Homo sapiens: one gene and its partners. The protein of the gene in region 1 purifies or fractionates together with the protein of each later gene. This does not show direct contact. Each region holds a gene or a part of one and is shown in the gene's direction. Other genes may lie near its edges. The genes, in order: NUP107, NUP88, RANGAP1, SMPD4, IPO7, NUP155 and WRNIP1.

Evidence for each region.
Region 2: the proteins of NUP107 (region 1) and NUP88 purify together in Homo sapiens (affinity purification with mass spectrometry; 2 studies listed by BioGRID and IntAct, with this or other methods). This does not show direct contact.
Region 3: the proteins of NUP107 (region 1) and RANGAP1 purify together in Homo sapiens (affinity purification with mass spectrometry; one large-scale study listed by BioGRID and IntAct). This does not show direct contact.
Region 4: the proteins of NUP107 (region 1) and SMPD4 purify together in Homo sapiens (affinity purification with mass spectrometry; one large-scale study listed by BioGRID and IntAct). This does not show direct contact.
Region 5: the proteins of NUP107 (region 1) and IPO7 purify together in Homo sapiens (affinity purification with mass spectrometry; one large-scale study listed by BioGRID and IntAct). This does not show direct contact.
Region 6: the proteins of NUP107 (region 1) and NUP155 purify together in Homo sapiens (affinity purification with mass spectrometry, with the first as the bait; one large-scale study listed by BioGRID). This does not show direct contact.
Region 7: the proteins of NUP107 (region 1) and WRNIP1 purify together in Homo sapiens (affinity purification with mass spectrometry; one study listed by BioGRID). This does not show direct contact.

Annotation. Positions count from the first base shown.
Region 1 is NC_000012.12:68,724,607-68,728,836, forward strand, and holds part of NUP107 (nuclear pore complex protein Nup107), read left to right. Parts: intron 1-1,120; coding exon 1,121-1,190; intron 1,191-1,892; coding exon 1,893-2,011; intron 2,012-2,744; coding exon 2,745-2,783; intron 2,784-4,230. UniProt on the Homo sapiens protein: Plays a role in the nuclear pore complex (NPC) assembly and/or maintenance. Required for the assembly of peripheral proteins into the NPC. May anchor NUP62 to the NPC. Involved in nephrogenesis.
Region 2 is NC_000017.11:5,385,992-5,388,886, reverse strand, and holds part of NUP88 (nuclear pore complex protein Nup88), read left to right. Parts: coding exon 1-85; intron 86-934; coding exon of another isoform or gene 935-982; coding exon 983-1,108; intron 1,109-1,216; coding exon 1,217-1,282; intron 1,283-1,420; coding exon 1,421-1,501; intron 1,502-1,776; coding exon 1,777-1,903; intron 1,904-2,060; coding exon 2,061-2,179; intron 2,180-2,546; exon of another isoform or gene 2,547-2,617; coding exon 2,618-2,681; 3' UTR 2,682-2,895. UniProt on the Homo sapiens protein: Component of nuclear pore complex.
Region 3 is NC_000022.11:41,279,271-41,283,500, reverse strand, and holds part of RANGAP1 (ran GTPase-activating protein 1), read left to right. Parts: exon of another isoform or gene 1-714; intron 715-1,857; exon of another isoform or gene 1,858-1,959; coding exon of another isoform or gene 1,960-2,044; intron 2,045-2,288; exon of another isoform or gene 2,289-2,418; coding exon of another isoform or gene 2,419-2,456; coding exon 2,457-2,568; intron 2,569-4,230. UniProt on the Homo sapiens protein: GTPase activator for RAN. Converts cytoplasmic GTP-bound RAN to GDP-bound RAN, which is essential for RAN-mediated nuclear import and export. Mediates dissociation of cargo from nuclear export complexes containing XPO1, RAN and RANBP2 after nuclear export.
Region 4 is NC_000002.12:130,171,169-130,175,398, reverse strand, and holds part of SMPD4 (sphingomyelin phosphodiesterase 4), read left to right. Parts: intron 1-398; coding exon 399-485; intron 486-1,742; coding exon 1,743-1,885; exon of another isoform or gene 1,886-1,889; intron 1,890-2,044; coding exon 2,045-2,120; intron 2,121-2,503; coding exon 2,504-2,612; intron 2,613-2,721; coding exon 2,722-2,774; intron 2,775-2,898; coding exon 2,899-3,050; intron 3,051-4,230. UniProt on the Homo sapiens protein: Catalyzes the hydrolysis of membrane sphingomyelin to form phosphorylcholine and ceramide. It has a relevant role in the homeostasis of membrane sphingolipids, thereby influencing membrane integrity, and endoplasmic reticulum organization and function.
Region 5 is NC_000011.10:9,425,943-9,430,172, forward strand, and holds part of IPO7 (importin-7), read left to right. Parts: intron 1-2,597; coding exon 2,598-2,687; intron 2,688-2,823; exon of another isoform or gene 2,824-3,012; intron 3,013-3,088; coding exon 3,089-3,254; intron 3,255-3,731; coding exon 3,732-3,892; intron 3,893-4,230. UniProt on the Homo sapiens protein: Functions in nuclear protein import, either by acting as autonomous nuclear transport receptor or as an adapter-like protein in association with the importin-beta subunit KPNB1.
Region 6 is NC_000005.10:37,304,956-37,309,185, reverse strand, and holds part of NUP155 (nuclear pore complex protein Nup155), read left to right. Parts: coding exon 1-57; intron 58-1,753; coding exon 1,754-1,889; intron 1,890-3,975; coding exon 3,976-4,129; intron 4,130-4,230.
Region 7 is NC_000006.12:2,771,801-2,776,030, forward strand, and holds part of WRNIP1 (ATPase WRNIP1), read left to right. Parts: intron 1-1,137; coding exon of another isoform or gene 1,138-1,198; exon of another isoform or gene 1,199-1,251; intron 1,252-4,230. UniProt on the Homo sapiens protein: Functions as a modulator of initiation or reinitiation events during DNA polymerase delta-mediated DNA synthesis. In the presence of ATP, stimulation of DNA polymerase delta-mediated DNA synthesis is decreased.

The DNA of each region.
Region 1 (4,230 bases):
TCTCTACAAAAAAAATTTTAAAAATTAGCCGGGTGTGGTGGCATGCTCCTGTAGTCCCAGCTTCTCAGGAGGCTGAGGTGGGAGGATCACCTGAGCCCAGGGAGGTGGAGGCTGCAGTGAGCCGTGATTGTACCACTGCACTCCAGCCTGGGCAACAGAGTGAGACTCTGTCTCAAAAACAAACAAACAAACAAAAAAAACCACACTGAAAGCAAAAAAAGTAGTTAGAGGGTACTTGCCTTACTCAATAATAACACTTAATATGAAGATACAACAAAACAGTATAGAACTGACATGAAAATAAATAGATGAGTGGAACACAAAGTCCAAACTAGATCCAAGTATATATGAGAACTTAACAGATGTCAGAGGTGACATTTCATTTCAGAGGGAAAGGGATGGTTTATTTAAATAAATGGCGCTGGCATAATTGGCTTTCCATCCAGAAGAAAACAAAGCTAGATCCTACTTCATGCCATGTAACTAAAATAAATTCCATATAGAGCAAAGGTTTGAATGTAAAAATTAATAAATGCTGAAAGAAAATTTAGACAGCCAACTAAATAAAAATTAAAATACGTTTGACAACAAAAAATGAACTATATTCTTCAAAAAATCAAGCTGCAAATAAGTTAGAAAAGGTTTTCTCTACTCTGTACCTGATCACTATTTTTTTTTTTCACCCTTGGTGCCATGTACAGAAGAGAATACTCAAAGAATGCTTTCATGTACTGCTGCTCATGTTGAAAGAAATCTTAATAGTTTATTTTGCTTAGGTCACATGAGTTCTTCCTTTCTCGTCCACCATGTGTAGTGCCAAGGTAAATAGGAATAAAATATAAGAATAAAAGTTTAATACCATTGAGAGATTAAATTGTTATAACATAGGTCTCTACTTTCAAAGATGCTTTTCAGTTCTGGATTTGTAAGCTGTGAGTATATTCCAAAGGCAGTATCCTTTCCATGTTTTATTTTGTTTTGATCTTTCTAAGGCCCTTCATTTCCAGCTTTTTCTTTCTATATGTTCCTTCAAAAGTTTAACATTTTTAGTTTAACAGTGAATATATACTACAGAATGACTGCTAGAAGATTTATGGAAAATTAAAAACTTTTTTTTCAGAGAGTTCTGGAAGAGAATCAAGAACATTATCATATAGTTCAAAAGTTTCTTATCCTGGGAGACATTGATGGTAAGATATGGTTTTATTTTACTTTGTGTTTTTTGTGTGTGTTTTTTTTTTTTTTTTTGAGACAAAGTCTCACCCTGTTGCCCAGACTGGAGTGCAGTGGCTCAGTCTCAGCTCACTGCAACCTCTGTCTCCTGGGTTCACAAGATCCTTCAGTCTCAGCCTCCTGAGTAGCTGGGATTACAGGTGTGCACCACTACGCCTGGCTAATTTTTGTATTTTTAGTAGAGACGGGGTTTCGCTGTTGGCCAGGCTGGTCTCCAACTCCTGACGTCAGGTGATCTTCCCTCCCTGGCCTCCCAAAGTGCTATATGTTATAGACATGGGATTGCAGGCATGAGCGACTGCACCCAGCCAGTTTTATTTTACTCTTTATGAGTTCTTCATTGTCTTATAGTGATTTTTTAAAGTTATCCAAACAATGCATGTGACTTACCATATCTTTTAATCTTGATAAATATTAACCTATTTGAATGCAACTATTTACTTTATGTCAGAGGTGACCTTTCATTTGGTTTTTATAAAATAAAGTTCGGATTGAACCCAAACTCTGTTTCAAAGAGGGTGTAGAGTTATATCATGGCTATTAATTATGAGACAGTGACTTGAAAGCACTATAGGAGTGAAATAAATGTTCTTGGTAATGTTTATTTTTTTCTTTTGATTTTATTCCTATTGTTGAATCTTCACTTTGATGGCTTGTAGGTTTGATGGATGAGTTTAGCAAATGGCTTTCCAAAAGCAGAAACAATCTACCTGGACACCTGCTTCGCTTTATGACTCACCTTATTTTGTTTTTCCGTACTCTGGGACTACAGACCAAGGTATATAAAAATGAACGATTTCTTCTTCTCTGTAATGTTGATGCTATATACCTATTGTCAAGAAAACACTACTTTTTTTATTATTGTTTTCTAGAAATGGTGATAAGGAATCAAAAGTCTTCCATATAGTCTTGTATAGTCACTCAATGATAACTCACTGAGAGTGGCCCTTTAGGGTTCTAGTCTGTGGCCACAGAATGCTGTTGGTTAACTGGTTTTTAATAAATTCATAACTTTATCCTTGTCTGTACCCAGCTTTAAATCAACCAGCTAAGCTAACTAAACAAAGTGAGTGCTATGTGAGATTTTAAAACTTTGTTGGTTGTTGTTTTGTTGCTTTTTTTCTAAAAAAGAAGATAACATTTTGGTCAGAGTGCATGTAGAAAGTGAATGATACAGTAGTTGAAAGCTTGGGCTTTGGAGTAGGAGTCCTGAGTATATACCCTTATTCAGCAGCTTCTATCTGTGTAACTCTGGGTAAATAAAACTTCCCTTGGTCCTAATTTCATCCTCTGTAAAATGTGAACAATAATAGTAACTACCCAAAAAGAGTTATGGTAAGGTTAAATCAGGCAGTAGATGAACTTTGGTAAGCACTTAGCTTGGTGTATAGTTACTGCTCAGTGGTAAACATTACAATTATTAAATTATTTAATAATGGAATTTGTATCAAAAATTTTGTTACTTTCATATAAGCAGTGTATTTATAATTATGTCTTTTTTTCCTATGAAGGAGGAAGTTTCTATTGAAGTTTTAAAGACATACATACAGGTAAACTTTGAGAACCTACAACCTGATTGTTTTTTACTATTTTAATGAAAACAAAACTCAGAATGATGCTATTTTAATTCTCAGTGGTAAGAAAGCATCAGAATCCATAAGAGATCTTTTAATTATCAGCACAGTTGACCTTTGAATAATGCAGGGATTAGGAAAACAACCCCCACCGCCCCGCACAATCAAAAATTCACTATAACTTTTGACTCCCCAAAAACCTAACTACTGATACCCTACTGCTGACCAGAAATCATACCAATAACATAAACACACAATTAACACATTTTGTATATTACATGTATCATATGCAGTCATCCCTCAGTATACTTGGGGGATTGGCTCCAGGACCCCCACATATAACAAAATCTGTGTATACTCATGTCCCACAGTTGGCCCTGCAGAACCTGCATATACGAAAAATTGGCCTTCCATATTTGCAGATTTCACATCCAGATAACACTGTATTTTCTAAGTTGAGTTGAAAAAAATTTATGCAGAAGTGGACCTGCACAGTTCAATCCCGTGTTGTTCAAAGCTCAACTGTACTGTATTCTTATGATAATGTAAGTTAGAGAAAAGAAAACATTACTAAGAAAATCATAAGGGGCTCGGCGAGGTGGCTCATACCGGTAATCCCAACACTTTGGGAGGCAGAGGCGAGAGGACTGCTTGAGTCCAGACGTTTGAGATCAGCCTGGGCAACATAGGGAGACCCTTCTCTCTACTACAAAAAATTTTTTTAAATTAGCAGGGCACAGTGGTTCATATCTGTAAACCCAGCTACTCGGGAGGCTGAGGCAGGAAGATCGAGTGAGCCCAGGAGTTGGAGGTTGCAGTGAGCTGTGATCTCGCCACTGCCCTCCAGCTGGGTGACAGAGTGAGACCATCTCAAAAAAAAAAAAAAAAAACAATCAGGCCAGACGTGGTGGCTTGCGCCTGTAATCCCAGCACTTTGGGAAACAGAGGTGGGTGGATCGCTTGAGCCCAGGAGTTCAAGACTAGCCTGGGAAACAGCGAAAACCTGTCTTTTTTTTTTTTTTTTTTTTGAGACGGAGTCTTGCGCTGTCACCCGGGCTGGAGTGCAGTGGCACCATCTCGGCTTACTGCAGCCTCCGCCTCCCAGGTTCAAGCGGTTCTCCTGCCTCAGCCTCCCGAGTAGCTGGGATTAAAGGTGCTGGCTAATTGTCTGTATTTTTAGTAGAGATGGGGTTTTGCTATGTTGGCCAGGCTGATCTTTAACGCCTGACCTCATGATCCACCCCCCTCAGTCTCCCAAAGAGCTGGGATTACAGGCGTGAACCACGACACCCGGCCTGGACCTGTCTTTTTTTTTTTTTTTAAGTTTAAAAATTAATAAATAACTTTTAAAAGTTAAAAAAAGAATAAATAATAAAAATCATAAGGAAGAGAAACTACGTTTATAGTACTATACTGTACCTGT
Region 2 (2,895 bases), on another chromosome or scaffold:
GTGTTCTGGCTGAAACCCCAGATTCCTTTGAAAAGCATATTAGAAGCATTTTGCAACGTAGTGTTGCCAATCCAGCATTTTTGAAGTATGCAACCTTGGGCATAGCGGTTTTATGAATGGGTTCTCTTCTGTCTTCAGAATTACTGTGCATCCTTTCTGTCCTCATCTGTTTCATATACTTTTTACTGTGATAAATTTGGAAGAAACTGGATATATTTGATCAGCTAGTGAATGGGGAGCAGGAGGGAAGTGGCACCTGAGAATGATAAACAGGAAGTGTTTAAAAAGAAGTTAGGCTAGGCCGGGCGTGGTGGCTCACACCTGTAATCTCAGCACTTTGGGAGACCAAGACGGGTGAATCGCGAGGTCAGGAGATCGAGACCATCCTGGCTAACACAGCAAAACCCCATCTCTACTAAAAATACAAAAAAAAATTAGCTGGGTGTGGTGGCAGATGCCTGTAATCCCAGCTACTTGGGAGGCTGAGGCAGGAGAACCGCTTGAACCTGGGAGGCAGAGGTTGCAGTGAGCTGAGATCCCACCACTGCACTCCAGCCTGGGCGACAGTGAGACTCGTCTCAAGTTAGGCTGGGCACGGTGGCTTACAGCTGTAATCCCAGCACTTTGGGAGGCCCAGGCAGGCGGATCACCTAAGGTCAGGAGTTCAAAACCAGCCCGGCCAACATGGTGAAACCCTGTCTCTACTAAAAATGCAATAATTAGCCAGGCGTGGTGGTGGGCACCTGTAATCCCAGCTACTCGAGAGGCTGAGGCAGAAGAATTGCTCGAACCTGGGAGGTGGAGGTTGCAGTGAGCCGAGATAGCACCAATGCACTCCAGCCTGGGTGACAGAGCGAGACTGCATCTCAAATAAATAAATTAAAAATATAAAAAGTTTAAAAAGCACCTGTGACTTGAGTCTATTTATTTTCAGTTGTTTTACTCAGCTAAGGAAAATAAAGGTAGAAACTTTGTTTTTAAGAGCTTCTGAAAAGGACATAGCCCCTCCTCCTGAAGAATGCCTTCAGCTCCTCAGCAGAGCCACCCAGGTGTTCAGAGAGCAGTACATTCTCAAACAGGACTTGGCAAAGGAGGAGATTCAGCGGAGGTATGATGTCCTGTGTTCACAAACCATCGATCCCTGGCTGGTAGCTGATGCTGTATGGTAGCCTAGACCTGGCTTCTGAATAAACTCTATTTCTTTTTGTTTTTAAAGGGTCAAATTATTATGTGACCAAAAAAAGAAACAACTAGAAGATCTCAGTTATTGTCGAGAAGAGAGGTAAGTGTCAAAAATAAGAAGAATACAATAGGTCAGTAAGACTGGAACCATATTCTCACCCTAAGATGCTGAGCCACATTAGGTGGTTTCAGCATCAAGGGGTGGACCTCAAGAGTCTCTTGTGTCTTACATCATTAGGAAAAGTCTGCGGGAAATGGCTGAGCGTTTAGCTGACAAATATGAGGAAGCTAAAGAAAAACAAGAGGATATCATGAACAGGTCAGTGGGCTGTATAACATTTAGTTACCTAGTCAGGTACTAACAACGATATTTAAGAAAATGGGCATTGGCAGGTGCTTACATACCTACGGAACTGAACTGATCCCCCTGCCTCTCCTCTGAAGTATATGTTGGGGAAAACATGAGGCTCTCCCCTAACCCTTCCTATGGGGCCTACTTCAGAAACACCAGATTCATGAATTATGAGCTTGTGATTATGTTTCTCCTAATTAGTAGAGACCTTAAATTGAGATGTTTGCTTGCCTTTTCTAAAGGATGAAAAAACTACTTCACAGTTTTCACTCTGAGCTCCCAGTTCTCTCTGATAGTGAGCGAGACATGAAGAAAGAATTACAGCTGATACCTGATCAACTTCGACATTTGGGCAATGCCATCAAACAGGTAGGAATAGATCCAAACTAGCTAAATTTGGTAATTTTTCTTAAAGCACTTATTCTACAGAAAATTTTACAAAAATGTAAAAAGAACAGATTCAAATAGATACTGTGAAAATGTGTGGCAAACCACTGCCAAAATATCTATTATTTTAATACTTAAGGTTACTATGAAAAAGGATTATCAACAGCAAAAGATGGAGAAGGTGTTGAGTCTTCCAAAACCCACCATTATTCTCAGTGCCTACCAGCGAAAGTGCATTCAGTCCATCCTGAAAGAGGAGTAAGTAAATACTTCCAATCAGCTATTATCGTGAGATAGTTTTTCCTTTACAGTATGCCAGAATCAACCTGTCTTAATAGAAACCTGAATCTTGGTATTTGCATGTCAAGTAATTACTGGGATGAGAGCCACATGATACATAGGGACTTAAGAAATGACTATGGTGGGAGGATTGAAAGGGATGACCTTCTAGTAACATGATTTTGTTGTGTGGCCAAAGGTATTTTACAGTAATTATGTTCAAAAATATTTCCAGTACTTGCACCGTTTGCCACCTTAAATGAATAGTGAACACTATTGCTATCCACCTGAAACCTTCAGCTGTTAATTTTAGCAAAGCAGTTCTTAGATGTTTCAACATTACCAGTTTAAATTCTTAAGAATCCATATAAATGGTTTATTATAATTCCAAAAGTGAGTGACTTTACAATTTTACAGGGGTGAACATATAAGGGAAATGGTGAAGCAAATCAATGATATCCGCAATCATGTAAACTTCTGACACCACCAGGAGCTGACTCACACCTGAACTGAACACCATTGAAGGCTTAAACCCATATTGTAAAACAGGTAGAATTATCTAATTTATAAAAAGGTGTTTTGATGACCTTTGGTGTGGTTCATCTTTTTAAATATGTTGTTTTATAATAATTGAGTAAATGCTTTTATTTAAAATTTGGAATGTGCTTTATAACTCAAGCCTACAGTTGTGTTCA
Region 3 (4,230 bases), on another chromosome or scaffold:
AGTCTTGCTCTGTCGCCAGGCTGGAATGCAATGGCGCGATCTTGGCTCACTGCAACCTCCGCCTCCCGGGTTCAAGCAATTCTCCTGCCTCAACCTCCCGAGTAGCTGGGACTAAAGGCGTGTGCCACCACGCCCAGCTAATTTTTGTATTTTTAGTAGAGACGGGGTTTCACCATGTTGGCCTGGCTGGTCTTGAACTCCTGACCTCGTGATCCACCTGCCTCGGTCTCCCAAAGTGCTGAGATTACAGCCGTGAACCACCACTCCCGGCCCCCCAACCCCCCCCTTTTTTTTTTAAATCACATACTAAATGTGTCATTTAGAACATATGCTTCAAGAGGTCAGGGTTTATGCTTCCTTTACTGCTATACTGCTGACCTGGAACAACATCCAGCACACAGTAGTAATCAATGTGTTTTTGAATGAATGAGTGGACACCTTACCCAGGATAATAATTCATGCTTATTGATAAAGGCAGACAAACCAGGGTTATAAGTTAGAACCCAGAGGAAGCCTAGGGGTGGGAGGATTCAGGGTATCACAACTGTATCTGAGAATGAGGAGGTTGTAGGAGGAGGCCTTTCGGATAGCACCCCCTAGTTCTGCCCCTCATATCTGCTTCCTTGGTCTCTCCTGATTACTTGCTGTTTCTTTTCTTTTTTTGGAGCATCTCACAGATACGTTTATTCATACCACAAAGTAAACACTATTCAGGTATGTAGTGATGTTCCACGTTCCTGTCTAATATAGCTGGCTTCAATTTATAGGCAGTACACATTGAGACATTTAATCTCACATGTACTCCAAGTAAAGCTGGAGTACCATGAGCAGGCGCAGGAGTTCTCAAAGCTTTACTTGTTTTAAAAATTTTCATTTATTGGCCAAGCGTGGTGGCTCATGCGTGTAATCCCAGCACTTTGGGAGGCTGAGGCGAGTGGATCACGAGGTCAGGAGATCGAGACCATCCTGGCTAACACACGGTGAAACCCTGTCTCTACTAAAAATACAAAAAAATTAGCTGGACATGGTGGTGGGTGCCTGTAATCCCAGCTACTCAGGAGGCTGAGGCAGGAGAATGACATGAACCTTGGAGGCGGAGCTTGCAGTGAGCCCAGATGGCGCCACTGTGCTCCAGCCTGGGCGACTGAGCGAGACTCCGTCTCAAAAAAAAAAAATTCTTTCATTTATTTAGTTACTTTTAGAGATAGAGCCTCCCGCTGTTGCCCAGGCTGGAGTGCAGTGGCAGTCATAGCTTACTGCAGCTTTGAACTCCTGGGCTCAAATGATCCTCCTGCCTCAGCCTCTCCAGTAGCTGGGACTGACTACAGGCACGTGCCACCACACCCAGCTAATTTTTATTTTTATTTTTATTTTTTTGAGACAGGGTTTTACTCTGTCACCCAGGCTAGAGTGCAGTGGTGAGATCATGGCTCACTGTAGCCTCTGTCTCCGGGGCTCAATCAATCCTCCCACCTCAGCCTCCCCAGTGGCTGGGATTACTGGTGCACACCACCATACCCTGCTAATTGTATTTATTTTTAGTAGAGATGGGATTTTGCCATGTTGCCCAGACTGGTCTTGAGCTGCTGGGCTCAAGCGATCTTCCCATCACAGCTTCCCAATGTGCTGGGATTACAGGTGTGAGCCACTGTACCTGGCCAGCTTTACTTCTTTTACCAGCACTCCTGATTTTATAAATAGTGAGGCTTATCAACCCCATTTCTACCCAAATCTTCTGGTAGACTTGAGTATAGTAGGGCTTCATAGGTAGCAGCCCTGTCCCTGTCCTATTATGATGGTAGCTGTTGTGATGTGGCGATCTCTGATCTAGAAACCCCTGAGGGGCCATTGTGGCCTGCCCAGTCTCCCGGCCACGGTTGAAACCAGACGTGCAGTGGGGCTGACCCCTGTGCCCCACCCCAGAGTCATGCCAGCGTGGGTGGTGGGGCATTCTCTGGGATGAATGATCTGGATCCCATAGCCATCTGTGTCCTGTTTGAGGAATGGGACCCTCAAACAGAGAACAGCCAAGATGCTCAAGCAGGTGTGTGCTTGGGCCAGACTCTGCAGCCTTTGGTTTGGGACTTGACTGCCATTCACTGAAGGGGCCCAGGAAATGGGCAGCTCACATGGTGTTGCTGGGTGTCCAGCTGCGGCAGTTTAGCAGAGGAGGACTTGTAATGAGATGGTAGCTTCTTATAGGCTAAGACATGATTTTTCTGTTCTTTTACTACCTCCTGCACCTTCTAGAACTGTTCCTTCTCTGATGCTGTTTTCCTTTCTTCCAGTGATTTATCTCTAGGGTCTCCATAGCAGGGGAGGTAGGGTCAGACTCCTGAGATGGCTGATGTCCTACCCTGCCCCCAACCAGGGGCCCCAGGAGACTCCTTTTTCTTACTGCAACTTTGGCCTCCTCAGTCTGCAGATCTCCAGGGGAGCCCACCAGCCTAGTCAACATGGCCTCGGAAGACATTGCCAAGCTGGCAGAGACACTTGCCAAGACTCAGGTGGCCGGGGGACAGCTGAGTTTCAAAGGCAAGAGCCTCAAACTCAACACTGCAGAAGATGGTGAGTTTCTGGAAGTTGTGCACTGGTGTGTCCAGGGGAGGAGAGGGAGTGTACTGAACTCTTACTGGTTGTCAGGCTCTTTCTGCTACATTGTCTCCATTATTTGTCCCAGCAGCTCTGTGAGGTATCATTGGGCCTATTCTAACAATGAGGCTCAGAGATCATTTGCCCAGGAGCAAGCTCCCCTGCACTTTCCATGTTTGTATTGGGCATCCCTTTGTGCCCTGCCCTTTCTTTCTCAGGAGGGGATGATAGGTAATGAGGGGCCACAGTTAGTGCCAGTCCCAAGATACAGCCTCTGACTCTGACTTAATATCCGGTGTTGTCCCCACCCTTGCCCTTAACCCCCATGATCCCAGGCAGGCCTGGGAATAGCTGCAGCTTTCCCCAGAGCTGAGGCTCTGGTGGAGCTGCATTAAAACAACCTGGGCCCTCTTGGGAGATGCTGGTTCATGCAACCAGATGTACCTGGGAGAGGGATGGCTGTCTGTGTGTATACAGGTATTGCAACCACAGAAAACTAGGAACCAGAGAGCAGACCCTGTCTTTTCATCCCTTGTCAAGGCTTGGCTGCCACTGACCAACCCTGAATCACCTGGCACCTGCAAGTGAAGGCACCTGCATCAAGTGAGGCCTCCTGGGATTCTGGCCCAACCAGGGGAACTGGTCTGGACATGCCTGGTTGTCATGTTGTGTAGGCAGCCTTGTTCTCCTCTCCAGGTCGGAGGCTGCTTGAGTCCTTGGGTAGCTGGGAGCGTGCTGATGCATGTTCCTAACATCTCCATAAGGTCTAACGTTTATAGACTTCCTCCCTGTGCATTTATCACTTTTTTTTTTTGAGATGGAGTCTCTGTCACCCAGGCTAGAGTGCAGTGGCACGATCTCAGCTCACTGCAAACCTCTGCCTCACGGGTTCGAGCAGTTCTCCTGCCTCAGCCTCCTGAGTAGCTGGGATTACAGGCGCCCACCACCACACCCGGCTAATTTTTGTATTTTTAGTAGAGATAGGGTTTTGCCATATTGGTCAGGATGCTCTCGAACTCCTCATCTCAGGTGATCTGCCCACCTTGGCCTCCCAAAGTGTTCGGATTACAGGCGTGAGCCACTGTGCCCGGCTTTTTTTTTTTTTTTTGAGATGAGTCTCACTCTGCCACCCAGGCTGGAGTGTAGTGGTGCGATGTTGGCTCATTGCAACTTCTGTCTCCCAGGTTCAAGCGATTCTCCTGCCTCAGCCTCCCAAATAGCTGGGACTGCAGGCTCACACCATCACGCCTGGCTAATTTTTTTTTTTGAGACATAGTCTTGCTCTGTTGCCCAGGCTGGAGTGTGGTGGTGCAATCTCAGCTCACTTTAACCTCTGCCTGGGTTCAGGCAATTCTCATGCCTCAGCCTCCTGGGTAGCTGGGACTACAGGTGTGTACAACCATGCCCAGCTAATTTTCTTTTCTTTTTGTTTTTTTTTTGAGATGGAGTCGTGCTCTGTCACCCAGGCTGGAGTGCAGTGGTGCAATCTCGGCTCACTGTAAGCTCTGCCTCCCTGGTTCACGCCATTCTCCTGCCTCAGCCTCCTGAGTAGCTAGGACTATAAGCACCCACCACCATGCTCCGCTAATTTTTTGTATTTTAGTAGGGATGGGGTTTTACCATGTTGGACAGGCTGGT
Region 4 (4,230 bases), on another chromosome or scaffold:
ATTTCCAGTTGATGCGTACAAACTCAGTTATACTCTGTGGTTTGTGAGGGGTGCCCTTACACAGTCAAGATCCTCTTCTGGCTGTGGGGCTGACTCTGGGACCAACCCCTACTTATGGATTGGTGGAAGTCAATCCTGTTCTGATCATGTGCAGCACTCTGAGGGGGTACTGGGAAACAAGGCTGATAGTTCCTGGTCCAGAGAGCATAGAACTACGGCCTCTCCTAGTAGTACTCTTTGGGCCACTGACACACATGAGGGGCTGGGGAACCAGGCCAGAGGTTATGGGTCTGACTCATAACCTATTGCTTGGATTTCTGTTTGACTCAAGCCAGAGTGCCACTAAAAGCTGCAGAGTGAATGTCCTCGTGACTTTTTCGCTTTGTTCTGTCTTCTAGGCTAGCCTGAAAGCTGACTCTATAAATAAGCCCTTTGCACAGCAGTGCCAAGACTTGGTTAAAGTCATTGAGGACTTTCCAGCAAAGGTATAGCTCTGCTAACGTCTCTCTTTGGAGCATGTCTTATACATTCGTTGAAGAACTTTATTATAATTCCTAATTTCCCTCCCCGCCCCAACCCCGAGCACTGCCTGGCACAGAGGCCTGGCCATTACCATGACCATTATGTTTACGGACACATTTAAACATGTGAACTTGTAGATCAGGGGTTCTCAGCCACAGATGCTCTGTTCCTCAGGGACACTTGGCAATGTCAGAGACATTTTTGGTTGTCACATCTGGAGGTAGATGGGGAGTGTGTGCTACTAGCTTCTAAGAAGTAGAGGCCAGGGTTGCTGGAAACATTCTGCAAAGCACAGGACAGCTCCCTGCGACAAAGAAGTATCTAGCCCAAAATGTCAACAGCACCAAGATTGAGAAACCCTGATGTAAATACTAAAAATATGTATTTAAATCACACCTGGAATTGTCAAGCCCAGGAAGCTGGCCTAGACAAGGAGTTAATACCAAATGGCAATAGGTCAGTTAGGTTTCAGGGGCTTCACTCTGGAAAGGATGTTGCTTTCCTTTCTGATAGAGCATCCTTCAAGTCAGAAGTTTCCATCACTGTTTAAAGAATCTTTTTTTTGTGGTGGCTCATGCCTGTAATCTCAACACTTTGGGAGGCCGAGGTGGGAGGATCACTTAAGCCCAGGAGCTCAAAACCAGCCTAGGCAACATACTGAGAACCTATCTCTACAAGAAATTTAAAAATTAGCTGAGTGTAGTGGTGTGTGCCTATAGTCCCATTTACTCAGGAAGCTGAGGTGGGGGGATTGCTCGAGCCCAGGAAGTCGAGGCTGCAGTGAGCCATAATTGCGCCACTGCACTCCAGCCAGGGCAACAGAGTGAGACCTTGTCTCAATAAATATGTATTTTGTTTATTTTTTTATTTTATATTTTTTTATTTTCATTGTTTGTTTTTTTTTAAATTTATTTATTTTTCTTAATTTAATCTTCTATCACACACAAAAAATGTATTTTGATCGGAGGCTGACTTACTTAACTGGCCCAAGTCTAAAGCAACACTGCTTGGTATGCCATGTACCCCACTGGAAGAACGTAAAGCTGCTCTTGTCGTTGGCACCATGGCACCAGGCTTCCTTTGGGTGCAGGGCTGATCCCATAGGTCTTAGCCAGGGAGTGGCTTCCTCAGAGGGAGCTGGGCAGCAGGTGGTGCAGGACTAGAGCCGGGGCAGGAGTGGGTGCTGGTCCTGCACGCGGCTTCACCACACATTGTTTCAGGAGCTGCACACCATCTTCCCATGGCTGGTAGAAAGCATTTTTGGCAGCCTAGATGGTGTCCTCGTTGGCTGGAACCTCCGCTGCTTACAGGGGCGCGTGAATCCTGTGGAGTACAGCATCGTGATGGAATTTCTCGACCCTGGGTAGGTAGGTTGGTCACCGGAGAGAGGCTGGGTGATTCCTCATGGTGATTCCACCTTTAAAGCACTCTCTGAATTTCTCAAGATTAAGAAACAATCAAAGCAAGATAATTCGCAGTTCATTTGCCCTGTTTTTGTTTGTTTGTTCAATTTCGTGTTCAGTGGCCCAATGATGAAGTTGGTTTATAAGCTTCAAGCTGAAGACTATAAGTTCGACTTTCCTGTCTCCTACTTGCCTGTAAGTAAACCACAGTGGCGAGAGTGGTGCTCGGGGCAGTGGGCCTTGCACAGCCCTGTGGTGATGGGCAATCTCCTCCAGTCCTCTGAGGGCAAATTGAGGAGCGATTCGTTCCAGGGGTGTGAGAGGCAAAGGAAATGGGTATTGCATGACTGCTACCCTTGCTGTCTGCAGCTCTTTATGAGATGATGGTAGGAGAAGTTCTAAGCAAAGACTCTTGTTCAGGCACTGCTCAGAGGCAGGGCACTGTCCCCACAGGTGGGTTCTGTGTGTGGGTCTCTTCCCCAGCAGCCTTCCCAAAGTGCTGCTGTGCATGTGGGGTACTGCGTATCGGGCACTACGCACCAGCACCTGCCCACAAGCCTCACTGCCTCTCTCTGCAGGGTCCTGTGAAGGCGTCCATCCAGGAGTGCATCCTCCCTGACAGTCCTCTGTACCACAACAAGGTCCAGTTCACCCCTACTGGGGGCCTTGGTCTGAACTTGGCCCTGAGTATCCTTTGGTGGCCCTGAGGTAGGGAGGCTGTGGGTGGCCCAGCACTTGACACTGAGCGGGGGGTGGCTCATCAACCCTGCATGTTTGCCCCTGACGCTGCTCTCAGATCCGTTCGAGTATTACATATTCTTCTTTGCCTTGAGCCTCATCACTCAGAAGGTAAGGAAGGGATGCCTTTTGCTGGGAGAGGTGGGGCCACGGCCCAGGGCTTCCCTGCACTTGTTGGTGCTTGGTGGCCTGGCAGTGTCCAGAGCCCATGCTAACAACTAGCTTGGTTTTCCAGCCACTTCCTGTGTCCCTCCACGTCCGTACTTCAGACTGTGCCTATTTCATCCTGGTGGACAGGTACCTGTCATGGTTCCTGCCCACCGAAGGCAGTGTGCCCCCACCACTCTCCTCCAGCCCAGGGGGGACCAGCCCCTCACCACCTCCCAGGTAAGGCTGCCCTTTGTTAAGACCTGGCCCTTCCATAAGGGAGTGGCCTGGTCACTTGCATCGCCCACGGGGACAATGTTGCCACCCTTTGTCCACGGTTCCCCAATTTTTCTTATGCCTCATTCCCCATCCCCAGCTGTCTTAGCACAGACTGGAGGGTGGGGTATGGCGGGCAATCTGTCCTTAGTGTTCAGTGTCTTTGGCCATCACTGAAGCTATCAGGTCCCTGGAGGCCTCCACGGCCTGCATGGGAATGGGCTGTGTTGTGCATGGAGCAGCCGTCCCCACAGGCGGTGTCTGAGTCAGTGAGCAGGGTGGAAAGGTTGTCCTATGAGCAAAAAAAATAGGAATCTCTATGGGCCCCAGGAGCAGATCTTGAAGGGGAGGCCCTGGGCCAAAGAGCCTGTTTTGTCAGTCCAAACAGGCTGAGCCTGATGCGTGCCTGCACAGGTTGGGAGTGTGAACCAGGGGCTCTCATGCCTGGCTGTCCTGGGTCCTCAGTGGGCACTAACGCAGGCCGACTTCCCAGGAGACCCTCTTGCCCCAGCAGCAGCTGCCTGTGCACCTCTGACCCTCTTTAATCTCACTGGCCCATCGCCTTCCCCAGGAAGCTGCATGCAGGCCCCTTCCTGCAGATGCTGGCCCACCCCAGATCTGCTGGCATGTGTAAGGCAGGCCAGGCCTTTACCTACAATTCACGTGTGGACAGATTCCCCAGAGGGTGGAGGGGAGAAAGGGAGTGGCAAGGAGGAGACGCTGCCCAGGTAGCGGCAGTGATCAGTGACCCTGAAATGTTGCTGATCCTGTGGAGGACTCGGAGGTGAGGCAGATTCACACCCTCTTAGATGCAGAATTCAGCTGCCAAGCAGTTTTTGATGCCTGGTTTTTTTGCTTGTTTTAACTTTTTGGGTTGTTTTAATTTTTTCTATTAGAAATTATATACGTAGGCTGGGAGTGGTGACTGATGCCTGTAATCCCAGCACTTTGGGAGGCCAAGGTGGAGGGATCGCCTGAGGTCAGGAATTCGAGACCAGCCTAGCCAACATGGTGAAACCTTGTCTACTAAAAATACAAAAATTAGCTGGGCATGGTGGTGCACACCTGTAATCCCAGCTACTCAGGAGGTTGAGGCGGGAGAATTGCTTGAACCCGGGAGGCGGAGGTTGTGGTGAGCTGAGAT
Region 5 (4,230 bases), on another chromosome or scaffold:
GGCTGAGGCAGGAGAATCACTTGAACTTGGGAGGCGGAGGCTGCAGTGAGCCGAGGTCATGCCACTGCACTCCATGCTCCAGTCCAGGCGACAGAGACTCCGTCTCAAAAAAAAATAAAAAAATAAAAAATAACAACCTTATGGAGTGTACAACTCAGTGGTTTTTAGTTTATTCACAGTTGTATAACTATCACCCCCAGAAGGAACTCTGTATACATTAGCAGTCACTCCACATATCACCCCAAATCTCCCAACCCTAGGCTACCTATAGTCCACATTTTTTCTATGGATTTGTTTATTGTGGACATTTTATATAAATGGAATCATATAATACGTAGCTCTTTGTGGGTGACTTCTTTCATTTAGTGTAATGTTTTCAAGGATTATCTGTGTTATAGCAGGTTTCAGTACTTTTTCCTTTTTGTTGCCAAATTATATTTCATTATATTAATATACCACATTTTATTTACTCATTCATTAGTTGTTTCTACTTTCTGGCTGCTTACAAATGTTGCTGTGAACATTCATGTTTAAATTTTTATGTGGACATACGTTTTCATTTTTCATGGGTATATACCTAGGAGTATGAATTGCTTGTCATAATTTGAGACACCGCAGAACCCATTTTCCAACGTAGCTATACCATTTTATATTTCTGCCAGCAGTATATTTTGATTATAGCCATCCTAGTGAACGTGAAGCATTATGTCTTTGTGGCTTTGAAATTTTTCATGTGCTTACTATCCGTTTGTATATTTTCTTTAGAGAATATCTATTCAAATTCCTTGCCCCAAAAAAATTGCTTGCCTTTGTTTTTTTTCTTTTTATTTTTTGAGATGGAGTCTTGCTCTGTCACCCAGGCTGGAGTGCAGTGGTGAGATCTTGGCTCGCTGCAGCCACCAGTCTCCCACATTAAAGTGATTCTCCTGCCTCAGCCTCCCAAGTAGCTGAGATTTCCGCCTCCCCGCCCCCCCGCCATATGCTGGAGTGCAGTGGCGCAATCTCGACTCACTGCAACCTCTACCTTCCGGGTTCAAGTGATTCTCATGCCTCAGGTGCCTGCCCCCAGCCTAATTTTTGTATTTTTAGTAGAGATGGGGTTTTGCCATGTTGGCCAGGCTGGTCTCAAACTCCTGGCTTCAGGTGATCCGCCTGCCTCAGCCTCCCAAAGTGCCAGGATTACAGGCGTGAGCCACTGTGCCTGGCCCTTGCCCATTTTTAATTGGGTTATTTGTCTTTTTATAATTGAGTTGTTAGAAATCTTTACATTCTAAAGCCAGGCACTAAGTACTCACAGAATATTTAGTCATTGTGTCTTTTATCTTTTCGTTTTTTGGAAATGGAGCCTCGTTCTGTTATACAGGTTGGAGTGCAGTGGCGTGATCTCTGCTTACTACAACCTCCACCTCCTGAGTTCAAGCGATTCTCCTGCCTCAGCCTCCCGAGTAGCTGGGACTGCAGACACCTGCCACCACACCAGCTAATTTTTGTATTTTCAGTAGAGATGGGGTTTCACCATGTTGGCCTGGCTGGTCTCGAACTCCTGACCTCAGGTGATCCACCCGCCTCGGCTTCCCAAAATGCTGGGATTACAGGCGTGAATCACTGCACCCGGCCGTCTTTCATCTTTTCTATACCTGTTCACCCATCCTTCTCTTTGTTTATAAAGTATGTATTAAAGACATTCTAATCATTTGTGGCATAGAAGGCTGAGAATTAGTGAGTTCTCTTGGCAAATTCAAGTTTATCTATTCTTACCTTTCACTCAGCTTCACTTAGTGGTAATACCTTACATAGGTAGGCAAAGTTATCAAAAACATGAAGTTGATTTTGGTATGCTACTATCAACTAATCCATGGACCTTTTTAAAGTTTCACAAGATTTCCCACTATGTCCTTTTTTCTGTTCCATGACCCAGTCTAGGGTCTCACATTGCATTAAGTTGTCATGTCTGATTATGTAAGTGTTGATATATAAGTGTCTTATGTTTTTAATGTTGATTTAATGTGCAGTTTAAGGAACTCTTCTAAAAAGCTTCTTTCCACTTAGAAAATACTCACTTTGAATACTGAGAGTGCCTTTTTAGAGAATCACTTGAATCTGGGAGGTGGACATTGCAGTGAGCCGAAATTGTGCCACTGCACTCCAGCCTGGGCAACACAGCAAGACTCCGTCTCAAAAAAAAAGAAAAAAAAAAGAGTGTGCCTTTTTAGATAGCCAGTTTATTCGTTTGAAAGCAGGATTTTTCTCAGGTTATGTTATTTTCAGCCAGAAACTTTATCAGACAAGTTTTTTCCTTATAAAAGTTTCATAGTAACAGATAAAATTAACCAAACTTACATCATTCGAACACTATTGCTGGTAAGATTTGGCATAATGGCTTTCTAATCAAGGAATATAAAAACGTGAAAATGTGTTTAGTGGTTTTTGGTGGTGAAGTTCTGGAATACGAAAATTGGTTGTGGATTCTGGGGTTCAAAGAATGAGAATAAATATATGTAACATTAATAGTCATTTTTAATAGTGTTATATCTGTTTGGAAATTGAGATGATTATATTTGGAACTGTATCAAAATAACTGTTGTTTATATTTACAGAAAAAGATCTATAAAGATCAGATGGAATACATGTTGCAGAATCATGTATTCCCTCTCTTCAGCAGTGAACTAGGCTACATGAGAGCAAGGGTATGTTTTAAAGCTGCATTATTTATATACTTTTGTCTTGTAATGAATGACTCTGTGGACTTTTATATTGAAACTTTTAAATGTTCACTTTGAAGCCTGTGTCTTATTTTAGGTTTCTGTTTAATGTAAATCTTTACATGGCTGCTGTAATGTGTGCATAGGTTTCATCTGTGTCTGGTAGCAGTGTCTGTCTGTGTTTTTCATTCAGATCTTGCTATCCACACAAACATCATGCGGCCAAAGAGTAACTTGGGATCATAGTACTGGTCTAGTGTTGTCTCTGGACACATCTACCACTGGCCAGCCTCCAAATTCCCACACACAGAACTCAGGGAATAGAGATTAGCTTGGGGGAATTTAAGGTAAGGTATCTACAGTAACTCACTGTGTTTTTACAAAAGGCTTGCTGGGTACTTCACTATTTTTGTGAAGTGAAGTTCAAAAGTGATCAGAACCTTCAAACAGCCTTAGAGCTAACAAGAAGATGTCTGATTGATGATAGAGAAATGCCTGTGAAAGTGGAAGCTGCCATTGCCCTTCAAGTATTGATCAGCAATCAAGAAAAAGGTAAAGGATTTTTGTATGTCAAGAAAAGTGAATGTTGGCCAGGTGCGGTAGGTCACACCTGTAATCTTAGCACTTCGGTAGGCTTAGGTGGGAAGAGCGCTTGAAGCCAGGTGTTCAAGACCAGCCTGGGCAACATCTCTACAAAAAAAATTTTTAAAAATTAACTGGACATAGTGGCATGTACCTGTAGTGCCAGCTACTTGGGAGTCTGAGGCAGCAGGATCACTAGAGCCCGACGGTTCGAGGCTGCAGTGTGCTACGATTGCCACTACCCTCCAGCCTGGGCAACAGATCAAAACCCTGCCTCTTATAAAATATATATATATATATTAATTGTAAAAAGCCATAATCCTAGAAACTTGGCATACTTCCTTTTTATGTGAAAGTACTTTTTTAAAAAACTCATCGATATTTGTTATATCAGGTTTTAAGAAGTTTTAGGGGTTTTACGCAAGTTTTTTACTCTTTCTCTTACAGCTAAAGAATATATCACACCATTCATCAGACCTGTAATGCAGGCTCTTCTTCACATTATAAGAGAAACAGAAAATGATGACCTTACCAATGTAATTCAGAAAATGATCTGTGAATATAGTGAAGAAGTTACTCCTATTGCAGTAGAAATGACACAACATTTGGTATGTTGTTTGAACCTACCATATTTGCAAGCATTTTAATGTAGCTCTCAGTATGTTCCAGGTTGTGTCACCAGTGGCTTGCCTTACCTTATAGCAGTCAACCTTTTTGGCACCTGGGATCGGTTTCATGGAAGATAATTTTTCCACAGATGGTCCGGGGGAGATGGCTTTGGGATGAAACTGTTCCACCTCTTATCAGACAGGCAATGGTTTCTCATAAGGGGTGTGCAACCTAGATCCTTGAATGCACATTTCACAGTAGGGTTCACGCTCCTGTGAGAATTTCCGGCAGTAATGCTCACTCACCTACCACTTATCTACTGCTCCTAACAGGCCAT
Region 6 (4,230 bases), on another chromosome or scaffold:
ATCAAAAAATTAGCAATCAAGTGGACCTTTCCAATGTTTGTGCTCAGTATAGACAAGGTGAGAAATAAAATGTTTCTTGTATCTTTTACTCAACTCAAAAGACAAACAATAGTGTATGAATGAAGCAAGCTAATGATGAAAAGCCACTTTCCAGATGCAAATCTTCTTTCAGCATCAGAGGCCGAGTGAAAGGACGTAGGAATGTGGTATCATTGTGTTGCAATATTTGATGACTACACTGACCTGCAGAAGCTGTAATGTTCTTTCTATTTTTTGAAATGTACTTTTTTTTTTTTTTTTTTTTTTTTTTGAGAGTCTCGCTCTGTCAGCCAGGCTGGAGTGCAGTGGCACGATCTCAGCTCACTGCATCCTCTGCCTCCCAGGTTCCAGCAATTCTCCTGCCTCAGCCTCCCGGGTAGCTGGTATTACAGGCGCACGCCACCACGCCCAGCTAATTTTTTATTTTTTTATTTTTTTATTTTTTTTATTTTGAGACAGAGTCTTGCTCTGTCACCCAGGCTGAAGTGCAGTGGTGCGATCTCAGCTCACTGCAAGCTCTGCCTCCCAGGTTCACGCCATTCTGCCTCAGCCTCCCAAGTAGCTGGGACTACAGGCGCCTGCCACCATGCCCGGCTAATTTTTTTGTATTTTTAGTAGAGATGGGTTTCACCATGTTAGCCAGGATGGTCTCAATCTCCTGACCTCATGATCCACCCACCTCAGCCTCCCAAAGCGCTGGGATTACAGGTGTGAGCCACCGCGCCCGGCCATTGCCCAGCTAATTTTTGTATTTTTAGTAGAGGTGGGGTTTTACCATGTTAGCCAGGGTGGTCTCGATCTCCTGACCTCAGGTGATCCACCCATCTCAGCCTCTCAAAGTGCTAGGATTACAGACATGAGCCACTGCGCCCAGCCGAAATGTATAACTTTTTAGCATTAGAGTTTCAGTTCTTGTCCAGTTCAATTACTGTATGTTTTACATTGCTTTCTGGATTACATTTATTTTTCAGATATTTAAAATTTTTTATTGAGTTTTAAGGTATAATCTGCTTACTTTTTAAAAAATTACTTTAAATCAAATCTAACATAATGTAAAGGCCATAACTATTTGCACAGGTATTATTTTGAATCCCAAGGTATTTTTTTCCCCCCAGTAGGGAACTAAAACTTTCCTTTTTGTTATTTGAAATAGGATCTTTTTTTTCCAATGAAGAAATATATATATATATATATTTTTTTTTTTCCTTTTTCTTTTTTTTTTTGTGAGACAGAGTCTTGTTCTGTCACCCAGGCTGGAGTGCAATGGTGCAATCTCAGCTCACTACAACCTCTGCCTCGCTAGTTCAAGTGATTCTCCTGCCTCAGCCTTTTGAGTAGCTGGGATTACAGGCGCATGCCACCAGGCCCAGCTAATTTTTGTATTTTTAGTAGAGGTGGGGTTTCACCATGTTGGTCAGGCTGGTCTCGAACCCCTGACCTTGTGATCTGCCCCCTCTCAGCCTCCCAAAGTGCTGGGATTACAGGCGTGAGCCACCACACCTGGCCCCCAATGAAGAAATATATTTAACAGTTGCCTTTTAGGCATATTAAGACCTTTTCCTTCTGAAGACCTATCAGAAATATTTTATGTTAGCAGGGTGACTATTGTACAGTAGAGACATAACCTTGATCATTATTTTCATGTGCCAGCTAAGGAAAAATGTATCCAACTTAGTAGTAAGTCATAGGTCTTCATTCTTTTCTTTCCCATCAGTGAGATTTTATGAGGGTGTGGTGGAACTTTCTCTTACGGCTGCAGAGAAAAAAGATCCTCAAGGTCTTGGGCTTCATTTCTATAAACATGGAGAACCAGAAGAAGACATAGTTGGACTTCAGGCCTTCCAAGAAAGGTGCATTCCATTACGTTAGCAGATTGTCATCTTTATGGATACAGACTTTTCTTTGCATAATGTTTTTTGTTTTTTGTTTTATGTTTTTTTTTTTTTTTTGAGACAGAGTCTTGCTCTGTCACCTGGGCTGGAGTGCAGTCGTGTGATCTTGGCTCACTGCAATCTCTGCCTCCCAGGTTCAAGCTATTCTCGTGCCTCAGCCTCCCATGTAGCTGGGATTACAGGTGCACACCACCACGCCTGGCTAATTTTTGTATTTTTAGTAGAGACAGGGTTTCACCATTTTGGCCAGGCTGGTCTTGAATTCCTAACCTCAAGTGATCCACCCACCTCAGTCTTGCAAAGTGCTAGGATTATAGCCATCAGCCACCGTGTCTGGCCTCTTTGTGTAAAGGTCGACCACCCAAAGTGCTGGGATTACAGGCATGAGCCACCATGTCCAGTAGGATTTCATTTTAAAGGATAATTTTTAAGTATTCCCAAATTTGTTGAGACTGTTAAAAAGGAAATGTGTGTCCTTAAAAGAAATATAGGCCAGGCACAGTGGCTCACGCCTGTAATCCCAGCACTTTGGGAGGCTGAGGTGGGCAGATCATGAGGTCAGGAGTTCGAGACCAGCCTGGCCATCATAGTGAAACCCTGTCTCTACTAAAATACAAAAATTAGCCAGGCGTGGTGGTGCACACCCGTAATCCCAGCAACTTGGGAGGCTGAGGCAGGAGAATTGCTTTAACCCGGGAGGCAGAGGCTGCAGTGAGCTGAGATTGCACCACAGAACTCCAGCCTGGGCGTCAGAGCAGGGCTCCGTCTCGGAACAAAGAAGAAATATATAACCTTTCTATAACATATATATATGGAGGGTGTTTTGTTTTGTTTTTGTTTTTGTTTTTGAGACAAAGCTTCACTCTGTCTCCTGGGCTGGAGTCAGTGGCACCATCATAGCTCACTGTACTCTTGACCTTTTGGGCTCAAGTGATCCAGTGATCCTCCTACCTCAGCCTCCTGAGTAGCTGGGACTACAGGCACATGTCACCACACTCGGCTAATTTTTTTTTTCTCTTTAATTTCTGTAGAGACAGGGCCTCACTATATTGCCCAGGCTGGTCTTTAACTCCTGGGCTCAAGCAATCCTTTCTTCTCAGCCTCCCAAAGTGCTGAGATTAGAGGTGTCAGCCACCACATCTGGCGAAAACATATTTTTTTATTACTATATTTAATGACTTTACCCTTTTAATGTTTAACCAAACACTTCTCAAACTTATTGAAAAAGTATATGGTTTGTATTATTTTAAATGCCAAATATGTACATCTATTCTGCCAAATAGTCTTGAAATCCTTGTATATACTTAGGTAAGGTAAATCAATGGCTTTCTTTTTTGTTATTTGTTTTGTTTTGTTTTTGGGGGGTTTTGTTTTTTGTTTTTGAGACAGGGCCTCATTCTGTTGCCTGAGCTGGAGTGCAGTGGCATGATAATAGCTCACTTGCAGCCTTGAATTCCTAGGCTCAAGCGATCCTCCTGCCTCTGCCTCCCAAGTAGCTGGGATTACAGGTGCACACCGCCACGCCTGGTTAATTTTTTGTTTCGTTTTGTTTTGTTTTTTGTTCGTTTGTTTTTTGAGACAGGGTCTTGCTGTCACCCAGGATGGAGTGCAGTGGCATGATCTCAGCTCACCTCAACCTCTGCCTCCCAGGTTCAAGCAATTCTTGTGCCTCACTCACCTGAATAGCTGGCACTACAGGCATGCACCACCAAGCCCGGCTAATTTTTGTATTTTTGTCAGATACGGGGTTTCACCAGGTTGGCCAGGCTGGTCTCAAATTCGTGACCTCTGGCAGTCCCCCTGCCTTCGTCTCCCAGAGTGCTGGGATTACAGGTGTGAGGCACTGTGCCCAGCCAATTTTTTTGTATTTTTTGTAGAGACGTGGTCCCGCTCTGTTGCCCTGGCTAGTCTTGAACTCCCAGCCTCAAGCCGTCCTCCTACCTTGACTTCCCTATGGCTGGCATTACAGGCGTGAGTCACCACACTTACCATCATTTGCTTTCTAGTTAAATAATGTAATTGTTCCTTTTCCATTTTCTTTCAGATTAAACAGTTACAAATGCATTACAGACACACTTCAAGAACTGGTAAATCAAAGTAAGGCCGCTCCTCAGTCTCCCAGTGTACCCAAAAAACCTGGTCCTCCAGTGTTGTCATCTGATCCAAATATGCTGAGTAATGAAGAAGCAGGACATCATGTAAGGGACATAGTATATTTTCATTCTGAGAATACACTGTTTAGAAGTTCTCCATGGTAATGGTAGCACAGTCATCTTGGGGAAAGGTGGTAGTTCTTAGA
Region 7 (4,230 bases), on another chromosome or scaffold:
CGCATAGAACCACATGGTAAAGACAAATTGAAAGAAAAGGGGGGAAATCCTAACATGTTTCATGTTTCTGTGTGTTCTTTGCTCTGTGTACTGGTTATCGTAATGTATCTGCAACTTAATATTCTGCATGTGTACTTGTCTGGGGTGATTTTTATTGATTTCATGTCATCAGTTCATGAAATAGAACATGAAATCAATAATTAATATTGATGACATGAAGTCAATAATAATCAGTTGTTACTCAGATACCCTCAGGTTTTTTCACCTCTCCCCAGTCACTGCCGTGCAGGAATTTAAAGGAAATGAGAAAGGCGGCAGCCAAGGAGCTCATCCTTGTGAGAAGAATTTCTATATTTTATTATTAAAAATCCTCAGGTGATTTGCAGGCACATTAAAGTTTGAGAAGATCAAGTGAAATAATTAAGATTTAGTTATTGAAACTGATATAACAATGAGCTAGAGATTGTTTATCTGCTAAAATTGCTTTTCAGAGAAAACTTCCCATATCCAGTAAATGATTTACTATTTCCACTACCGCTTGCTTAGACTTGATCCCAATTATATTTGCTATCTTGTGTCCCCCGCTTTCCTGGGAAGACTGTGAGGACAGGAGCTTGTCCCTGTTCATATCCCCAGCACAGTGCCTGGCACACATTATGTGCTTTGTGAATGGTTTGGAAATGAATAAATCCTAGCTTTCGATATGAGAAAAGTAGTTTAATATGTTTTGCATTATCCAGCATAAGGGATAATTACCCAGGTATCAAGAGCCTTTTTCTTTAATACTATTGCCCTTTTCATCAGCAGCAAGCAGAGTAAAATGAAAGAATGTTAAGCTTAAAACCATTAATTGGTCAACTTGTTAGCAATTCTAACAAGAAGTTAAGTTAGGAGATATCATAGGCCACAGAAAGAACTCTTACAAGTGATTTCCGAATACAAGTACCTGCCACCCCAACTGTCAGGGATAATTAAGAGTGGATTGGGATGTCTTTTAGTTGTTTTAGGTAAAATTTTGCTTTCCAATCCCTGTTGACAGCTCTATATACATCCTTGTGCATATAAATCAGATTTGGTGACACTAATCTAGTTGAAAGAAAAGACTTCCAACCCCATATACTTACTTTCTCTCTCCAGGAAGCTATTGGTGTGCATTTGTATTCTTGTGTCATGTTTTGGTGCCCTAGATAGCAACTAGAACATTTACAGAGAAGTCCCAGGCTGTTGAACTGCACGTGAGAGGAGGTGAGCAGGGCACTGGATTTGGAAACTAATCAAGCTGCCGCTTAGCCGTTCTTGATTGCACTTGAGGAATTGTGAGTTGTCACACAGTATACTCATGTAAGTGATAAATTCCCATTAAAGTGAAATAAGTGTTCTTTTTTTAAAAAAAAATTCCCTCCTGTAGTTATTATTCAGTCAAAATTGAAGCTCCTGCATATGCTAGGCATTGGCTGAGGGTTGAAAAGCTTGTTCCTGTGCCTTCAGAGGGAGCGCAGTATGATGAAGGCTAGGGGAGCAGGTCCACTTCCAGTGCCACGCTTATACGCCAAGTGCAGTGGGCGTAGAGAAGCAGCATTCAGAATATGTGAAATCCAGTATTTCACCTCCTAGATGAGGGGATGCGGAGTTGAGTTTTGAAGGATAAGCAGAATTTAACTGAGTGAAATAGAAAGCTCATTGTCTACGCCATAGTTGCTTTGGTTTGTATGGCTAAGCAGTAGTGTTCAGGTATTTTGCTCTCCCAAAAATATTTGGATCACATGATACAAACAGTGAAGATTCTGTCTGCTCTGGGTTAATTTTGGAGGCCAGGAAAAAAATGTCCATGATTCATGATACGAAGAATGAGCTTGTGCTGCTGAAAATGAAAAAGTAAGCTAGCATTTCGTCATCCTGCACTACTTGCTGCTTTGAAGGAATATAGATTCCTAGGTCATAGAATATATACATAGTCAAAAACACTCCTAAAGAATCAATTATTTGTGAACCAGATAGAGTATACAAGTCTTTGGAGATCAAGAGAGTGAAATGAGAAGCCATAACTGCCCTCTGCCTAGCTAGGCTGAGTTCCGAGAGGTGGTTGGAAGACAGAAAGTGGCGTCTGTCCCTGGGTAAGGGCTGTGGCGTAACTGGGTGTGGGGCTTTTCTCTAATCATCTGGAGAGGAGAGCCCCTGACAAGCTGGCCCCCAAACAAGGTGGCTATGGATTCTTCTTTTTATAAAAGTTTAAAGTGTCTTAAATAACCTTTTGTGCCATTGAATAGAAAGAAAGGTAGTGGAACTCCAGAATACAAGGGATTGGCCAGAATAAATGGTTGGTATAGAGTAGATGTCAATCTTTTTATTTAAAAATTTTTTAAGTACATTAATACAGTACATTAACATAGCTGTTTTAATACAAGGGTGCATTAAAATAATGCCATAAAAGCACCAGCAGCCAGAACCACAGATCTCATGGTCCTTGGATGCACTTCCTGTGGCTGCTGTAACAATTGCCACAAACTGGGTGGCTCAGAACACAGAGCTTTATCCTCACAGTTCTGAAAGCCAGAAGACCAGAATCAAGGTATCAACAAGGCGATGCTCTCATCCAGCATCTGATGGCCCTTGGCATTCCTTGGCTTATGACTATGTCACTCCAGTCTCTACATCCATCTTCACATGGTGGCCTTCTTCTCTGTGTCCTTACGTCTTCTCTTTTTCTGTGTTTTGTAAGGACATTTGTCATTGGATTTAAGGTACACTCTAAATCCAGGATGATTTCATCTTGAGACCCTTAGTTACATCTACAAAGACCCTATTTCCAAATAAAGTCACAGTCACAGGTTCCAGGGATTAGGACTTACATCTTTTGGGGTCACTATTCAACCCACTACAGACCCCTACCAAGTATAATGTAATTTGGAAAGACATGTGCCTCCATGGGATTAAACAGAAAGACGTCGTCATCTGAAATGTACCTTCTCTCTTTGTGGAGAAAGTCAGTTTTGTTTTGCTTTGCTTTCACTCTGATGTTATGGAAGCGGCAGCATCTGGGGCTCTGCCTTGGATATGTGCAGTTCTGGAGAGTATGCTGTTGCACAGTCTGATGAGGGTGATTCTCCTCGCTGTTGATACCAAAGCAGTATTTGTCGAGTCTCATGACATGGCAGGCACTGCTCTAAGCATTCCACATGTCTTAATCTCATTCAGTCCTCAATACAGCTCTGCAAAGTAGATCTCATTACCTCCTATTTACTAGATGAGGAAACTGAGGCACAAAAAGGTTAAGTAACATGCCCAAGACCAACCAGCTTCAATGTGATGGAGCCAGTGTTTAAGGCATGTCTCTGTCTTCTCAGTGACTTCAAGTGCTACAAGGGGTGGAGGTGCCAAGTTTACAGAGGATGGACCCACTGCTCGGTTTTTCTGTTCTGACTTTTCTCTCTTGGCACTTCTTTGTGTAAGAGCAGCAGGAGAGCCTTTTAACCAGATCTGCACATCACACTTCCCTGGGATACATTTTAGAAACATGCCTTGCCCAGGGTCTGCCCCTGGAGATTTGAGCTCAGTCTATGGTAGGTAAGGTACATGTGGCTGTATTTGTGTCTAACTTGATGCATATCCCTGGTTGAAACTTCTACACAGCAGTTATCACCCTGACCATGAAATGTTCCTTTTCCTTAGTGGAAGAGATTTGTGGGGTTTGGTTTGTAATTTAGAGAGGGAGAGTTTAACCAAGCCATGCATATTCTTTCATTCTGCCTTGAAATAACAGGTACATTTTTACTTACTGCACTCCTTCTCCAACTTACATATCCAGCTGTCTAAGTAGTATCCTCCAAATTCCAGTATTACCCAATGTGTAGAAAGCTTCAGGATTTAGGCACCTGGAAGAGGAAAGAAGAGAGCTTCCTATATTCTTCTGTTAAAATTAAAGCCCTTCTCATCAGTTGGAGAAGCCAAGCTCTCTTAAGTCTGTTTCTATCTCTAGGTTTTGTTAACTAGAAATAGAATCTTTTCCAATGCATTTATTTTAACCAATTTTCCCTTATTATAAATAGTGTTTTATTATAACAACATAATTTACTTCCTATTGTTTATTTCCATGTAGGATGTTATGACATTTTGGGCAGTCTATCCCCAGAATAGATTTTACCTCTTTTTATTGTATTCTACCTTTGGAAGGTTATTTTTAAGTGCAAAACACTTTATAAATATATGCTTAATTTTAATATATGCTTAAAT